Regions from separate parts of the Homo sapiens genome. Here region 2 is linked to region 1. A link means that fine-mapping ties the variant in region 1 to the expression of a gene that starts in the linked region. Tissue or cell type: tibial nerve. Region 1 holds a variant in brackets; the other region holds the start of a gene. All regions are shown on one strand. Distances are between the middles of the regions. Region 1 overlaps NIPA1 (NIPA magnesium transporter 1). Region 2 holds the start of NIPA1 (NIPA magnesium transporter 1).

Region 1 (5,000 bases):
ACACCACTGCACTCCAGCCTGGGCGACAGAGCAAGAGTCCGTCTCAAAAAAAAAAAAAAAAAAAAAAAAAAAACCATTTACAGCTCCTAAATGTTTACATGGTCCTCTATTGGAACCATTCTCTTTTTTTCTTGTTGTTTGTTTTGTTTTTTTGAGATGGAGTTTTGCTCTTTGTTGCCCAGGCTGGATTGCAATAGCACGATCTCTGCTCACTGCAACCTCCACCTCCCAGGTTCAAGCGATTCTCCTGCTTCAGCCTCCTGAGTAGCTGGGAATACATAAGCACCCGCCACCACGCCTGGCTATTATATTTTTAGCAGAGACGGGGTTTCGCCATGTTGGCCAGGCTGGTCTCGAACTCCTGACCTTAGGTGATCCGCCGTCCTCGGCCTCCCAAAGTGTTGGGATTACAGGCGTGAGCCACTGTGCCCGGCCTAGAAACATTCTCTTAACAATACAAGTGAATGGAGATGCTCCGAGGTTTCAAAAAAGCACCTGGGAATCCAGGGGGCAGGGGTAAGGCAGGGGACAGGAGGGAGGACTTTAAGCTGTGGGGGTGTTTGTGGGTTTTGCAATGATTGGGGGCTGCATCCAGTGGGCAGAGGCATGTGCAGACAGCAACCCCCACCCCCATCAAAAATCATCCCATTCTCGTCACAACTGCTGAATGTCTCCTCGGACTTGTAACTGAAAAATATGCCTATAATAATCAGAGCCTAGAAACTATTTTATGTATGAAACAAAGTAATTTTTGCATGGATTTAATATATGCTGAATTCTTCAGACATGTCACTTCCATGTAAATTGAGGGAGGATTGTTCTTTGATCAAAACTTCATTAAGAGTTATGCTCCATCTGAGGATCATTTTGTTGATAGCAAGACCTCAAGTGTCCCAGTCAATAACATTACACCCCCACGTCAGTCTATATCTGCAGCTACCAGATTCTCAACCACTCCTCACAAGGTGTGGGGTCGGCCAGCTTCAATAGGTCTTCTCTTATAGTGGGACCTGAGCATTTACATATTGAAAGGGATGTTTTGTTTTAAAGTATTGTCCTGGTATTTCTCCTTTATATTACAGTTAGGGCATTAAATTGATGGTTTGAACTTGTGTGTATAAGGAGGTTGTGTTTTCCATGAAATCCATTCCAACATCACAAATGGACCTGAGAGGGCTGGGAACTGCTGGCTATGCAAACCAGCAAGTGTGGACATGCAAACCAGAGAGTGTGGACAAGAAAACCAGCGAGTGTGGACAAGAAAACCAGTGAGTGTGGACATGCAAACTAGGTGTTAACATGCAAACCAGCGAGTGTGGACTTGCAAACCAGGGTGTGGACATGCAAACCAGGGTGTGGACATGCAAACCAGCCAGTGTGGACAAGAAAACCAGTGAGTGTGGACAAGAAAACCAGCGAGTGTGGACATGCAGACCACCGAGTGTGGACAAAACCAGTGAGTGTGGACGAGAAAACCAGCGAGTGTGGATATGAAAACCAGGGAGTGTGGACATGCAAACCAGCGAGTATGGACATGCAAACCAGCGAGTGTGGACATGTAAACCAGCAAACTGATGTGGAGGCAGTTTTGTGCTGGAACCTGCCTAAACTTGTTGGTAAGCAACACAGGGTGGTCTACTTAAAGTGAAATCTATACTTTAAGTCTGTTGTAATCACGTAGATAGTAGTTTTTAGTGTATTTATCAAAATAAAAAAAGGACGGGCATGGTGGCTCACGCCTGTAATCCCAGCACTTTGGAAGGGCGAGGTGGGCGGATCACGAGGTCAGGAGATCAAGACCATCCTGGCTAACATGATGAAATCCCATCTCTACTAAAAATACAAAAAAAATTAGCCGGGCATGGTGGCAGGCGCCTGTAGTCCCCGGCTACTCAGGAGGCTGAGGCAGAAGAATGGCGGA[G/A]CTCGCAGTGAGCTGAGATCGCGCCACTGCACTCCAGCCTGGGTGACAGAGCGAGACTCCGTCTCCAAAAAAAAAAAAAAGAAAAGAAAAGAAATTATGTCAAAAGATATATAAACAGGGCTATATGAGGAATCTAAACTTAAGAGATGCCAGGTCTTTGTTCTCACAGAGCTTCACGCTGGAGGGAGTGAAGTGCTGAGGTGGAGATAGAGTGGGCAGGGTACACCAGGAAAGGTATGTGGGGAGGGGCGGGTGGCAGTCAGACTTGGGAGGGTGGCCCAAGGGGAGCCACTGTGGGAAGGGAAGGCGCCCATGCACAAGGCCCCAGAAGAGAACCCGAAGGAATACCAGGCCACGGAGGCTCCCCGCAGGGCCTGAGGATCAGGCGGGAGGGTGAGGGCAGAGGGCTAGCCTGCGAGCACAGCCCACTGATGCACGTTCCCAGAGAACACAGATCTACAGTAACAGATCAGGGTGGACACACGGTTCCTCTGCCCTGCCAGGAAGCATCCAATTTGAAGACGTGGTTAAAAAAGTTGGCACTCCTACTGCAAACTTTCTTGGCAGTGCTGCTAGAAAGGAATTACCTGGATTGGTCAGCTTTTCCTCCAGCTCAGCCTGAGTTGTCACACTCTCAGACTTTGGGGAGTGGATAATCAGCACGACGGAGCCTGCACAGCTTAGCAGGCACCCCAACTTGCCCAAGATGTTGAGCTTTTCCTTCAGGAGATAGGAAGCTAAAATGGACCTTTATTGAAAAAAGAGAAATCATTAAAGTTTAAACCAAACTACCTGACCTTTCTTCTAACAGCAGATATTTTATCTAGAAAAACCATTTTCTTTTTCTTCTTTTTTTCCCTTTAAGAGACCACCTCCCACTCTGTTGCCCAGGCTGGAGTGCAGTGGTGCAATCACAGCTCACCACAAGCTTGAACTCCTGGGCTCAAGTGATCCTCCTACCTCAGCCACCGGAGTAGCTGGGACTACAGGTGCATGCCACCACACCCAGCTAATTTTTTAAAAATTTTGTGTAGAGACTGGGTCTCACTAGATTGCCCAGGCAAGTCTCAAACTCCTGGGCTCAAACGATCCTCTTGCCTTGGACTCCCAAAGTGCTGGAATTATAGGTGTGAGCCACCATGCCTGGCCAGGATTTTCACACCAATTCCATGTATAACCACTACGTAGTTAATGATACACATAATTTACACCACTATATTACTATGTCAGCACATATAAAATACACCAGAGTATAAAAAGTTTTATGACTGACCAAAAATAAAAGTAATGCTTCCTTTCTTATAAAAGGAACCAATCAAAAATACTAATATCTATGCTACATGGAAAAGTAGGGTACAAAAACTGTCAAAATAATTATAAGTAATGCATGATAAAAACAAAATAAATTAAGTGAAAAATGCACAAACAAAAGAAAAAATAAAAATGCTAATAGTAATTGCAGTAGTAGAAGTAGTATGGGGTGGCTATTTCCTCTAATACTGAAAACTTTTAAAAACTGGTCACATTATTAATGCAAAAAAATGTATTCTTCAAAAACATCTATAATCTCCAGGCTTCTAACTTGTTTCTTCTCTTATTTCCCTGTGTAATTATCAGTATACAATCTGAATTGGAACACCTTGCCCTCAGTAAGTCACAGGACTGGTCATTGTCACTTTACTCATGTCTGTGCTGAAGACGATCAGAAAACAGGAACGTCCGGGAGGAGGGCATACCAGGCTCAGGTATGGACCGGATTACTTCCTTTAATACCTATTTTAAAGATAAGGAAACTTGAGCCTCAGAAAGGGTCAGCATTGAACCTAAGGCCACAAAGCTAACAAGAGATACAAGCACGGTCATGACACACCCACAGGTCCTAAACGGCCTACTTTTCCCTTGTACCACTTCACATCCTTGTCCCTAGACAGCCTGTTCTTAAGAAGCTCCCAACAGTGTCATTGGGGAAATAAGCAACATCACTGAAAGAAACAACAAAAGACATGAATACACAACTAGATGTTAAATAGAGAAGCTCCACCGAGTAGCTGCCTGGAAAAGGAGAAACCAGAAATGCAGGGGGCTCACAGGGCAAAAAGTGGGCCTGGAACTGGCCTCGGACAACGGGTGGACTATGCCAAGATGGGAAAGGGTTGCCATGCACGAAAGTGGACAGTATGAGCCACGAGGCCAAATCATCTCTTATTCCATTGTGGAATACCAGAGGACAGTGCCATTTTCATTCATTCATTCATTCATTTATTGAGACAGAGTCTCACTCTGTGACCCAGGCTGGAGTGCAGTGGAGCAGTCTCGACTCACTGCAACCTCTGCCTCCCGGGTTCAAGCAATTCTCCTGCCTCAGCCTCCCGAGTAGCTGGGATTACAGATGCCCGCCACCATGCCCTGGGGGATTTTTGTATTTTTAGTAAGGACGGGGTTTCACCATGTTGGCCAGGCTGGTCTCAAACTCCTGACCTCAAGTGATTCACCCGCCTCGCCTCCCAAAGTGCTGGGATTATAGGCATGAGCCACTGCGCCTGGCTGACAGTGCCATTTTTAAATTGGGTTATCTGACTTTTTACTGATGCACTGTAAGAGTTTCTGTTTCGTTTTCTTTTGTTGAGACAGAGTTTCCCTCTTGGTGCCCAGGCTGGAGTGCAATGGCGCAATCTCGGCTCAATGGAACCTCCACCTCCTGAGGTCAAACAATTCTCCTGCCTCAGCCTCCCAAGTAGCTGGGATTACAGGCATGTGCCACCACACCAGGCTAATTTTTTGTATTTAGTAGAGACGGAGTTTTACCATGTTGGCCAGGCTGGTCTCGAACTCCTGATCTCATGATCCACCCGCCTCGGCCTCCCAAAGTGCTGGGATTACAGGCGTGAGCCACCACGACCGGCAAGAGTTTTTATGTGTTCTAACTACAAGTCCCTTATCAGATATATACTTTGAAATTTTTTCTCCCACGAGTTTTCAATTCATTGATGGCATCCTTTTAAGCAGAAAGGTTTTTAATTTTGATGACATCGAATTTATCTATTTTCCTTCTGTTGTTTGTGCCCTTCGTGATCCACCT
Region 2 (5,457 bases), 34 kb after region 1:
AGGTCTGGAGTTCGGGACCATCCTGGCCAACATGATGAAACCCCATCTCCAGTAAAAGCACAAAATTAGCCAGATATGGTGGCACGCGCCTGTAATCCCAGCTCGGGAGGCTGTGGCAGGCGAATCGCTTGAACCCGGGAGGCAGAGGTTCAGTGAGCCAAGATCGCGCCATTGCACTCCAGCCTGGGCAACAAGAGCGAAACTCCGTCTCAAAAAAAAATCATAATAAAAAATAAATAAATGAATGAAAGCATAGTATATAGGTATAAGAAACAGCATTTATCTTTTTTTTTTTTTTTTTTAAGACAGAGCCTTGTTCTTCTCGCTCGGGCTGGAGTGCAATGGCACAATTTTGGCTCACTGCAACCTCCCCCTCCTGGGTTCAAGCAATTCTCCTGCCTCAGCCTCCCGAGTAGCTGGGATTACAGGTGTGAGCCACTGCACCCAGCTTATCATGTTTTTTTTAAAAGGCTACTCGCTTGTTTATTTTCCTATTCACCAATTCCTTTGAGCCACATGACCTGGGTTGAAATAACACAGTTTTCCTCAACTTTTTAGAAAACTAACTAAAGCTGGTATTCAGCTTTCCTTCGTTTTTCCCTAATGTCTTACATCTGGTGTTCACGTGTTCTTAGGCTCCTCCTGGTTGTGACGTGCTTTCAGATTCCATGACCTTCACAGAGGACTGGTCAGGTGTACTGCAAGATTTTTTTTTTTTTTTTTGAGATGGAGTCTTGCTCTGCCGCCCAGGCTGAGTGCAGTGGCGGATCCCGGCTCACTGCAACCTCTGTCTCCCGGGTTCAAGAGACTCTCCTGCCTCAGCCTCTCGAGTAGCTGGTACTACAGGTGCGTGCCACCACACCGGGATAATTTTTTGTATTTTTAGTAGAGATGGGGTTTCGTCGTGTTAGCCAGGATGGTCTAGATCTCCTGACCTTGTGACCCGCCCGCCTCGGCCTCCCAAAGTGCTGGGACTACAGGCACCAGCCACCGCGCCCGGCCGCAAGATGTTCTTCTACTCCGGTTTGTGTGGTGTTTTCCTCATGCTTACGCTAGGGCCGTGGATTGGGGAGGTGAGGTGCTTTCTCAGGCCATCCTATTTATAAGGTCACGCGCGTTGACCATCTCACCCAGTCCTGGGGCCTGTCACACGGACAGATGCTCCCTGAAGTGTGGCTGCGGTGTGTGTGTATCTGTGTGCCTTAGAGACAGACACATCTGCATCCTTGGAAAATCATACTTGGTTTTATTTAATTCTATTTAAATTGTATGGGAGACCACTATGCTTTCACTTTAAAGCTAAATTCCTTAAATTATCCATGATTTTATATTTTCATTCGAGACTGTCGGGCCCTTTATCTCTTCTCTGAAGCCAACGCCTGGCTCACTCAGAGAAAGTTTCACCTGCATTCCGCCATGTAAATTACGAGTTCACTTTCTCTCACAACCCAAGAGTCGGGGGCCACATCCTTCCCAGAGAGCTCTTAATATTCTTCTTCTAAGAGTATGGCCAAGAACCACAAGACTTTCTCAGTCCCTCTGGAAGCAATGGAAACGGACTGTTTCACAGCCTGCCATATCCTGCATTGGCAAACCGGTCCCGTCCGGGGCCTCCCAGCACAAACGACACTGACAGAGAGCTCTACCCCGCAGAGCACTACGGAGTGCGGTGCTGCGGCACATCCACCTGGGAAGTGGCCTTGGCCCGTCCAGGGCTTGGTTTTGGATCTGCCGCGCGTGTTCTCCAAACTGAAGATCACTTGTATTCATTTGGTGCAGGTCTAAGGCGCAGCGGGCTCCGTAAGAGCACCCCAGGAACGCACAGCCCTGAGAGCCCGCCCGGGTCTTCCTTTTGCACCAGCGAGGCCCCTGCGGGGGACTGGAAATCCCAGGTCTTGCTCTACCGAGCGTACCCTAGGAGCGGGCCGCGCATCGGCTGAAGCGGCGCTTCCAGGCGGGCGCTGGGCTCGAGCACCCCAGCACCGCGTCCGCAGGAGGCTCCCGGCCGCGGGTTGCGGGCCACGGCGAGGGCTGCCGGGCGGCGCGGGGCAGGTCTTGGACCGAGGGAAAAAGTCAGCCGGGGAAGCCCGCACACCAAAGCAAGCCGCTCCAGCCGCTGAGAACGGAGAAAAGCCGTGGCGTCGGCGAAGCGCCGGACGCTCAGGACGCACCTGTGATTCCTGGGCCGCTCCCGGGCCCGAGCGCCAGGACGCGGCGGCAGCCTGGGCACGCCGCGGGGAGCACCCGCCCGCGCAGCCTTCCCCCAACCTGGGCCCGGGCCCCGACCCCGTCCCCTGCCCCGACCCGGGCGCCCCCACCTGCGACCGCCTTCTCCGCCGCCCGCCTCCCCCACCCGCCCGCCGCCTGCCGCCTGCCGCCCGCCCTACCTCGCCGCTTGGCACGCACGATGCCCTTCTTCTGTAGCACGAACGTGGACCCGTTCACCAGGCTCGACACGACGGCCACGCCCAGGCCGAGCGACACGGCGGCGGGGCTCGGGCTACGCGCCCCCTCCCCGGCCGCCGCCGCCGCCGCCGCCGCCGCTGCCGCAGCTGCAGTCCCCATTCCGCCCGCGCCCGCCCTCCGAGCCTGCGCCTGCGCGCCGCGCCCCGCGGGGCGGGATGGGGGGTGACCGGGAGGCGCGGGCGGGGGAGGGGAGGGGGACGGGTGGGGGAGGAGCAGGAAGAGGGGCGGGGGCGGGACGGGGGTGCCAGGGACCGGCGCCTTAGGCTGCGGGGACAGCAGTGGCGCCGGACGCGGCGGCAGTGAGGGGCCGGTGAGGCGCTGGGTGGGGCGGGGGTTCCCGGATTTCGCAAATGGAAATGCAGGACTCCTGGTTAAGTTTCCAGCGCGGAGAAACACGCATACTTTCTGAGTGGTGTCCTCTGCAATATCCGGGCAGCGGAGCGCGGCAGGACGCACCGGCGGGCAGCGGTCCCCGAAGAGCCTCCAGCGGAGGCCGGCCCAACTCACCGGAGCGCGAAGCCCGGCGCGCCGCTGCAGAGATCGAAGGAGAGCCCTGGCGCTGGGCGTTTCTCTTCCGCCCTTGGCGCTAGAGTCAGCTACATGGGGCTCTGGGCTTGTGATCCCATAGTCTAGTTTCCTCGTTTTAATAAACTACAACAAGCCGGGCGCGGTGGCTCACGCCTGTAATCCCAGCACTTCGGGAGGCCGAGGCGGGTGGATCACAAGGTCAGGAGATCGAGACCATCCTGGCTAACACAGTGAAACCCCGTCTCTACTAAAAATACAAAAAATTAGCTGGGCGTCGTGGCGGAGGCCTGTAGTCCCAGCTACTCGGGAGGCTGAGCCAGGAGAAGGGTGTGAACCCGGGAGGCAGAGCTTGCAGTGAGCGGAGATCACACAACTGCACTCGAGCCTGGGCGACAGAGCGAGACTCCGTCTCAAAAAAAAAAAAAAAAAGAAACAACAACAAAATTACAAGCTTGAAAAATAGGAAAAAGTTATTTTATTTTTTTTGGAAAAAAATATTTTTTAAAGTGACTCAATTCCACAACCCTCACCTAATTATTAGTATTTTAGGTGTTTTCCCATAATGTATACATACTTTTACATGTTTCCAATTACAATATACGAAATTTCCTTTTTATTTAATATATATCAGTTTCTGTATCGGTACATAAATATGATTATTCTAATGACAGTATAATAATTTGTCTAACCATTCAGCCATTGTTGGGTGTTAGGTAGCTACCAGGTTGGTTTGTTTTTTTGAGACAGAGTCTCGCTCTGTCGCCCAGGCTGGAGTGCAATGGCGCGATCTCGGCTCACTGCAACCTTCCGCCTCCCGGATTCAAGCGATTCTCGGCCTCAGCCTCCGAGTATCTAGAATTACAGGCGTCCGCCACCACGCCCGGGTTAATTTTTGTATTTTGAGTAGAGACGCGGTTTCACCATCTTGGCAAGGCTGGTCTTGAACTCCTGACCTCAGGTGATCCGTCCGCTCTACCTCCCAAAGTGCTGGGATTACAGGCGTGAACCACCGCGCCTGGCCGGTTGCTGCCAGGTTTTGTTGTCTATAAACGATGCTACAAGCTGGGCACAGTGGCTCACACCTATAATCCCAGCACTTTGGGGACCGAGGTGGGAGGCTCGCTTGAGCTCAGACGTTCAAGACCAGCCTGGGCAACGTAGCGAGACCCGTCTCTACCAAAAAAAGAAAAAAATTAATTAGCGGGGCGTGGTGGCTTTTACCTCCAACCCCAGATACTCTGGAGGCAGAGGTGGGAGGATGGCTTGAGGTGGAGGTTGCAGTGAGCTGTTATTGCACCACTGCACTCCAGCCTGGGCAACAGAGCAAGATTGTCTCAAAAACAAACGAAAAGTATAAACCTTTTGGCAGCTTTGCATACAGCATTATTATTTTGTGAAGAAATATAAAATAGGGCCGGGGAGGTGGCTCATGACTGTAATCCCAGCACTTTGGGAGGCGGAGGCGGACGGATCCGGAGGTCAGGTGGATGGATCAGGAGGTCAAGAGATCGAGACCATCCTAGCTAACACGATGAAACCCGGTCTCTACTAAAAATACAAAAAATTAGCCGGGCATGGTGGAGGGCGCCTGTAGTCCCAGCTACTCAGGAGGCTGAGGCAGGAGAATGGCGTGAACCCGGGAGGCGGAGCTTGCAGTGAGCCGAGATGGCACCACTGCACTCCAGCCTGGGCGACGGAGTGAGACTCCGTCTCAAAAAAAAAAAGAAAAAAAAAAGAACTCCACCCCAGACATTTTTCCATGTGAGTACATAGGTTAAATGACAGGCATATTTTATCTGATGGGGAAACACATATGGGATTTTAATTAAAAACATAAAACTATATTTTGCTTGAATTTAACAAAAGAAAAACTGAAATGAAACTACAGTAACTACTGAATGACAAACATTATTTTGCCATGAGATATTACTTCCTAAAAGATACACCTAAAATTAAAGTTAGTAGGCCAGGTACAGTGGCTCATGCCTATAATCCCAGTACTTTGGGAGGCCAAGGCCAGCAGATCACTTGAGCCCAGGAGTTTGAGATCAGCCTGGGCAACATGATGAAACCCCATCTCTGCAAAAAAATACAAAAATTAGCCAGGCATGGTGACATGTGCTTGTAGTCCCAGCTACTCAGGAGGCTATGGGAGGATCACTTGACCCCAGAAGTTGAGGCTACAGTGAGCCATGATCACGCCACTGCACTCCAGCCTGGGCAACAGAAGTGAGACCCTGTCTCAAAAAAAAAAAAAAAAAAGTGAGAAACACTAAGAGGGTGGGAGTTACGTTTATTTTAACTCTGGGTTTCAATTTTGGGCTATCAATTGATTCCTTGCAAGGAGAAATGAGGAAATCAGTTCACTTTTCAGCTCCCTAAAAAATTTTTTTTTCGTCTTATGTTTTGAGATGGAGTCTTGCTCTGTCACCCAGGCTGGAGTGCAGTGGCGTGATCTTGGCT

The links.
Region 2: it holds the start of NIPA1, and the variant in region 1 is fine-mapped to the expression of NIPA1 in tibial nerve (GTEx, PIP 0.94).

Annotation. Positions count from the first base shown.
Region 1 is chr15:22,817,982-22,822,981 of GRCh38, reverse strand. It overlaps NIPA1 (NIPA magnesium transporter 1), which reads right to left. Exons shown (of 5, transcript NM_144599.5): 4 at 2,509-2,669. Among named protein-coding and RNA genes, the nearest start is that of NIPA2, 18 kb to the left of the region's middle. The variant G/A (reference allele first, on the strand shown) is at 1,922.
Region 2 is chr15:22,783,765-22,789,221 of GRCh38, reverse strand. NIPA1 (NIPA magnesium transporter 1) reads right to left here and starts at 2,578. Exons shown (of 5, transcript NM_144599.5): 1 at 2,388-2,578. The coding sequence starts at 2,565. RefSeq lists an enhancer at 1,531-1,640 and silencers at 1,991-2,120, 2,131-2,280, 2,351-2,710, 2,673-2,906.